Homo sapiens: one gene and its partner. The protein of the gene in region 1 purifies or fractionates together with the protein of each later gene. This does not show direct contact. Each region holds a gene or a part of one and is shown in the gene's direction. Other genes may lie near its edges.

Evidence for each region.
Region 2: the proteins of SINHCAF (region 1) and SAP130 purify together in Homo sapiens (affinity purification with mass spectrometry; 4 studies listed by BioGRID and IntAct, with this or other methods). This does not show direct contact.

The regions. Positions count from the first base shown.
Region 1 is NC_000012.12:31,298,614-31,302,267, reverse strand, and holds part of SINHCAF (SIN3-HDAC complex-associated factor), read left to right. Parts: intron 1-3,654. UniProt on the Homo sapiens protein: Subunit of the Sin3 deacetylase complex (Sin3/HDAC), this subunit is important for the repression of genes encoding components of the TGF-beta signaling pathway.
Region 2 is NC_000002.12:127,982,906-127,986,559, reverse strand, and holds part of SAP130 (histone deacetylase complex subunit SAP130), read left to right. Parts: intron 1-3,654. UniProt on the Homo sapiens protein: Acts as a transcriptional repressor. May function in the assembly and/or enzymatic activity of the mSin3A corepressor complex or in mediating interactions between the complex and other regulatory complexes.

The DNA.
Region 1 (3,654 bases):
ACCACTATTTAATTTTAGAAGACGAATGACAGTTCATAATCAGTATTTTAAGTTTTTCTTGATTTTTGGCTTTATCTCACAGCTTAATTTTCCTCTTCTTTCCCCAAACACATGGTTAAGGATGAGATTGTATGGGGTCTGTTCTCAGCTGTAACTATTAATCAATTAGAAAGCAGATAGTATTACCTTTCTTCCTTTAAAACATAGTGCTGAGTGATATGATGCCTATGAGAATAGAGGCAAAATTCACAGATAGTTTCATAGCTGATGGTGTCATTTGAACAAATAAGATAGATTGTACTGGAGGAATCATTTAATATTGCACAAATTTGGTACTAGGAAAGCAGTATTCTAAAGAACCACCAGATTGCTTGAAAAAACAAATCTCCAGTTTAAAATCAAGTTATGCCACGCCCACCCAGTACTTTGTTAAATATATAAAGTAACTTGGTTTCAGAGACCATTTTATGTCCTTGGTTTTGCTCTAGGGATTAAGTAGTGTTTTTTTTTTGTTGTTTTTTTAAACATTTCATGGGTTTGTAGATTTTTGGAAATAATTTCAGTTAATCTCAGGGCTTCCCAAACCTTGAAATGGTTAAACACCAACCACTGCTTAACTTGGTTGTTGTAAACAAAGCCCGAAATGAAACCCCTGTGTATTTGCTGCAGATTCCCAGGTGCCTCTTAAGTGTGAGGATAAGCTCAGAAAAGGCTTAATAGGTTTATTAAGTTGTCATCCATTAAAAGGTTCACATGCTCCTTGTGTGTTGCATAAGGACAGGTGTCTGCCACCTCATTGCATTTCTCACTGAGCATTGCCTAGGAGAGGGTAAGCCCTAGGATTTAGATCCCTCTCAGATGTTCAGGCAGAATAATTTTGTCAGGACAAAAGTAAGGTCACGGAACTATATGAAAATGGATTATGAATCCTAAGACATCAGCCTATTCTCCCCTATGTCTAAGAAGAATATTCCTCAGCTTATGACTGGAATGTCTTGCTAGGGGTGCTGGGTAAGTTTTGTGGAGGTCCCCACCAGCAGAAAAAAATCATTGAAGAGGAACACTTAATTCACAATGGCTGCTGATTAAAAAGAAAGCCTCAATATTCACCTATAACCCTAACATCCTTAACAGCTTAGCAGTGTGGTAACTGGCACAAACTATGGCGTCTTGGTCAAATCCAACCTCAGTGAAGGTAGTTCACATCCTAGAGATGAGCTGAATGCTGATAGCTTTGAGGACTTGTTTATTTGGGGGAAGGGAAAGAGATGGTGAGGGTAGAGATAGGAATCTGTCTGTCGTAATAGGATTTGGTCTGTGTATTAATGGAATGAACTGGCCTTTTTTGCTCTGCTTCTTTTGTCCTTGCTGAGAAGGGAGGCTGAAGTTTCCAAGAGTTATGGATGAAGTTGGAGAGTATTAGAGGAACTGTTCTCTGACCTTCTTGATGGTAATGCAAGCTGTTGGGCGAGTTTGGAGAAGAGCGCAGGGTGGTGTGAGGACGAGGGCCGTATTAACATTTTGCCTTAAAACAGGAATACACAAATTAAAGCAATAACTGCTACTCTGCTTTCTTGTTTCTGCAATCTTCTGTCATTTGACATTGTTTTTTCCAAAGCAACATGCGACCATTTTCTTCAGGATTTTCTTTTCAGTTATCATATGGGTTTGTTGTTGGATTGAGAAAAAAAAATCTGCCTCATTTGAGCAGGCCTCTCTAGATCTTTTCTTATGACTGTGTAGAGGGTACTTCCTCATTTTTCTTCCTCTCAAAGACATCAAATTCCCAAGCATTTAACTAAAATTATTATCAACTAAAAATGTTTTTTTTAAAACAGTTCTTAGAGGTAACTGTTTAGACTTAATTATTGAAATGCATGAAGGCCTTCTGCCTTGCCCCCATCCCACTCTTTTGCCTGCCTCTCTCACCAACAAAAACATGGCAGAGGAACAGTTTATTAACAATAGCCTGTTTGAAAGGGAAGCTTCAGTTTTTAGCTAATTATTTGCTAATAAAAGTTTTAAAAAAATTTTCTTTTAAAAGTTGTAAAACCTCTGTCTATATTTCAAAACCCCTCAATACCAAAAAAATACACATAAAAAGCCTGGATATTTGGTTCTGAATCATTTTCATTAATACTTGCTATATTATACTAACCAGAATTGGAATGGAATGGGATCAGACGAGATAATCCAAAGACAAATACAGCCATATGTCACACAAGGACGTTTCGGTCAACCACAGACTGCATATATGATGGTGGTCCCAAAAGATTATGATACCATATTTTTTTGTACCTTTTCTATATTTAGATGCACAGATTCTTACCATTGTATTACAGTTGCCCACGGCATTCAGTACCGTCACACGCTGTATAAGTTTGTTGCCTTGGAACAGTAGGCTATCCCATATAGCCTAGGGGTGTTGTAGGCTATTGCCATCTTGGTTTATGTGAGGACACTGATGTCTGCACAAGGATGCCCAATGATGCATTTCTCAGAATGTGTCCCCATTGTTAAGCAACACATGACTGTACTGAAGCTTTAGGTTTACTCATCTAAGTTTATTTCTAAAACAACTTTAAAAAGATAGTGTTCTGTGGTAATAACTCCTAAAACTATGGACACGAAAGTGATATTAATAATTTTCTTGGCCGGGCACGGTGGCTCACGCCTGTAATCCCAGCACTTTGGGAGGCCGAGACGGGTGGATCACAAGGTCAGGAGATCGAGACCATCCTGGCTAACATGCTGAAACCCTGTCTCTACTAAAAATACAAAAAGTTAGCCGGGTGTGGTGGCGGGCACCTGTAGTCCCAGCTACTAGGGAGGCTGAGGCAGGAGAATCACTTGAACCTGGGAGGCAGAGCTTGCAGTGAGCCTAGATCGCGCCACCGCACTCCAGCCTGGGTGAAAGAGTGAGACTCTGTCTCCAAAAAAAAAAAAATTTTTTTCTTTTATTGTTGCTTTATGTGATAATTTTGTGATAATTTATAGTTAGACCCTCATACATACACACATCCTCTGACTTGTCCATTGGAGTTTAGTTTCTATATTCATTGCCTTTTCATCACCTCTCTTAGTCCGGTTGTTTTGGTGAGCTGGCCCTTGATTTGGATATTCCAAATTACTTTTCCTAAGGTACAGATTTACTGCCAGCTACATATTTGCATCCAGCCCCAGAGCTGTTTTCATTCCTTCCTTGACGTTGAGATTTTTTTTTTTTTTAACAGGAGGACTGCAATTTATTTCACTCTACGTCTCTGGGACATTTGCCTCCCACTGTTACTACTCTCAGGCACAAAGCCTTGTAGAAGAGGTCCACAAACCTCTAACAACTAAGGGGCAGATCAGCGGTCAGACAACATGAGCTCGTTCTTTTTTTGTCTTAATGATAATAAGGAATTATTATTATTAAATTCTAACCTTGGATTTTTGTGAATTTTACATCTTCCCTTCAGCAGTTTCAATTCAGGGGCAAACTTGACTGCTTAGAACTTCCCATTTATCACAGAAGAAATCCCCTCTGAATTCCCATTAGGCAAAGTAGTATGGGCTGATGCATAGTGAGCTAGTTGTGTGCTTAGTATCAAATAGTATTCATGGTAAATGCTCAAAACTTCCCCAGAGGGGAATCACGTTAATGCAAATGTG
Region 2 (3,654 bases), on another chromosome or scaffold:
AAGCATCTGTTGCATACTGCTTTAATTCTCTCTAGTTCTGGAACTTCAATCATAGAACTTTTAAAGTAGTTTATAAGTAACTCTTGGGCTTGTGTAGGTAGTTACCTTAACTCATACTATAAACTTCATTCAGCATGAATCGTTGCTGTTGAAACGGGAAAAGTTCCCTTGTCCCCCTCGCAGGGCGTGCAACAGTGGGAGTGGCTCGCTTCTTCATTGCCCTGCTACTCAAACCTCTAGGGGAGCATACAGACAGGCAGGCTGTGTCGCTCCAACCCTACAGCAGTGTCTAGAGGTGAATGTTTACAGCTGAAACCCCAGTGGGCATGTGTTACAGAGTGCTCTTTTAGTTTAGCCATCCATAGATGGCTTGCATTAACCAGCTCAATTAGACCCCTGCCTTATGGCAAGGACAGAGAGCTTTCTGTATCCCAGGGTTCTTGCCTTGGTGTACTGGAAGAATGGGATCACACGTGGGCTTGGAGAATGAGTGTAGGGTTTTACTGAGTAGAAGTAGCTCTCAGCAGATGGGGGAAGCCAGAAGGGAGATGGAGCGGCCCCAGCTCTCTTGACTGCCCTGGCCAAACTGCGTCGTTCTGCTGGTCGGGGGCCTGCTGGCATGCCAGCGTCTGTCATGTGCTCTTCCACCGGCATGCTCCCCTTGCTGTCCTCTCGCCGTCCAGCTGCTTGTGTCTTTTGCCAATGCGTTCCTCTTGACGTCCAGCCACTTGTGTGCCTGTCTGCTAGGGTCTCGGAGGTTTTTACAGGCACAGGATCAGGGCGTAGCAGGCCAGGGTGGTCTGGGGGAAATGCAACATTTGGGCAGGAAAACAAAAATGCCTGTCCTCACCTAGATCCGTGGGCACAGGCTGGGGGTGGAGCCCTCACCAGGGACCCGCCCCTTCCCAGCACTTCCCTACTCCCCTTCTATGTCACTGTGGGCAAACAAATTCTGAAGTGTAGTAAGGGTCATATTTGGTAGCAGATAGTGTTTTGTGTTGCCATGTAAGCTTCTCAGTTGGTGGATCATAGGCAGGAAGGTATGTGCTGTGCTGTTTGAGTTAAACATTCTGGAGGTGGGAGATGAGCAGACATGTTTCAGAGAGCAGAGTTTCTGTGGCTCAGCTGAGCTAATAGCATCAACATCAAAAGATTAAAGCAAGTGCAAACTTAAATTGCTGGGACTAGGGTCCATGCAGGGTTTTTATTTGCACAGAGCTGTGCATATACCAGAGTCCCTATCTTTGCTGTTTATGAATACTTTGTACTTTTTTAAAGGATAAGTCAGTCCATGACAAAGTTACCTTATTAGTAAAAACACAAGGCAAAGCTTGTGGTTAAGATGACAGATTGATTACACACATCTAAAATCTTTCTGTCTCATAACCCTATATAACTTTTTTTCAAAAAAGTTGTAAACACACAAGGATGGGGAGAACAGGAGAGGACACAGTAGCAACTGAAGCTGGGAAGCAGACCATCACGCGATGGCGTCCTGGCTCTGAGAAAGCTAAATGTGAAGCTTGCGTAGGGGAAAGTTGAGAACCATCCTCTTTTAAAATTGGAAAATCTTCAAAAGGACCAACAACAGGCAAATCCTGGGGGCGAAGGAAGGGGCTCTGTCCTTTAAGGAGGATAAGTTAAAACCTTTGAGTTTGAAAAGTGTTAAAGTTAGAGCCCAGAATCCCATTTTCTACCTATGCCATGTGGTGTACTGCCCCTTCCCGACTTTAGCAGGAGCCTGAAAGTTCAAACTCTGCAGATGGTCCGCTAGGGTCACCCAGCACTATAGAGGTCATGAGTATTTTACCAGAAAGAGATTGTGACTCACCGTGTGTGTGTGGAGTGCTGAACACTTCCCAGTCCACTCCCTGCTTTCAGCTGATAGAACTCTGGCAGGTGAACTTGATTCTAGATAGAAAATGAGAAGAGGACTCTACTTTCCTTCTGGGGAGTCTATCCAGCCCAAGGGGAAGCTCTAAAGATACTGACACTAGGGCTTCCTTAAGGACAGGGTTAGATTACCCTACAGTGGACCTCATAGTAGACATGCCCTTCCAAAGCTCAGAGCTCCCAGCCAGCATTTCAGTCCCTCTCCCCGACTCTTAATCATGAACATACAACCAAAGATAGGCACATATCTGAGGGGACCTCTAACGGTGGAAGACAGAAACCACAATAAATACATGCCCAAAGCACCTTGGAAGATGTAGAGGCCTGGCAGGGAGAATAAAACACAAAACAAATGAGCAAGGATAAGCAAACAGTATCCGTGATGCCTTCAGAAAGACAAAAGAAAAGGTTGCATCCACAAAACAGTAACACAGTGCTATGCAAAAAGAACATTCAGAGGAGAAAAGAACCGGTCCTGAAATAAGATAGCAGAAATTGAAAGATCAGTAGAAGAGTTGGAAGATAAAATTGAAGAAATCTCAAACGTGGAACAAAAAGACAAGAAAATTGGAGAAAACGATAGGAGAAAATTTAAAACAACAATAAAAAGAACCAGGTCAGGAAATCCAGCCTCCAGGTAATGGGTTTCAACAAGAGAGATCAGAGAAAAGGAACAGGGATTACAAAGTAAGGAGTTTGTTATAATATTGTAATCTCAGTTCAAAAGTTAACTGCAAATATAAAACCCAATGATTTCTATATAGTAAATTGAACTGTAAAGGTAACTTGTGTGTGATTCTGAATACATAGATAAATGTTTAAAAAAAAAAAAAAAAAAAAAAACAACAAAGTAATAGAAAATTACCAAAACTGAAAGAAATGAGTTTCCTGGTTACAGAAATGCCCTGCACAGTATTCAATGGATGCAATAAACTCAGGCCAGTATTTTGAAATTTGGCAGCACTGGAGACAAAGAGATGTGCCTGCTTCTCCCGTACTTCCTCCCAAAGACCCTTGTACTGTGCCCTCTAATTCACAGCCTGTCATCACATGACACTCCAACCTCCACCCCAGTGCCCTTGTCTCTTCTTTCTCCACGCCTTCTTGCTTTAAACCTGGGACTCAACTTGCCCTGCAGCTGTCTAAAGTGGTCCCTGCCTCTCTTCCACATCCCTACTGTCACTCAGCCTGGAGGTAGGCAGGGTGTCCTTGTCATGCCTCACTGCCATTTTCAGACCATTTCTCCTCAAAAGCACTTGATCTGTATTTAGATTTCATAAAATGTACAGTTGAAAAAGTAGTTTCACATAGCCAAGTTATTCCAGACAATAAAAAGTTTCTCAGTAACTGGATCGAGTATCCATTATAAAATTCAAATTAATTAAAATGAAATAACATTAAAAATTTTGTTCCTGAGTTGCGCTTGCCACATTTCAGTTGCTCAGTAGTACCATATGGCCTTCTTGTTGGGCAGGGCAGATCTAGAGGCGCAGAGTCAAGTTAGATTTTGCAGGTGTATCTGTATGCCTTTTGGAAGGACATGATGTCTGGCACTTTTTAGTGATAGTGGAACCCTCTCTTCACCTTTAATGATCAGAAATGATTTTCCAGCTCCCTGGCCCCTCAGGTGCTTGAATGCTTCTCCTGCCTCCACCCTCCCCACCAGTTTGGGCACTTAGCACATAAGCTCAGTGAGCCTTCCTGACCTTGTCTCTGTGCTCCCATGCCCCTAGCCCATCTTCTTTCTTCCCACCTCCCTCC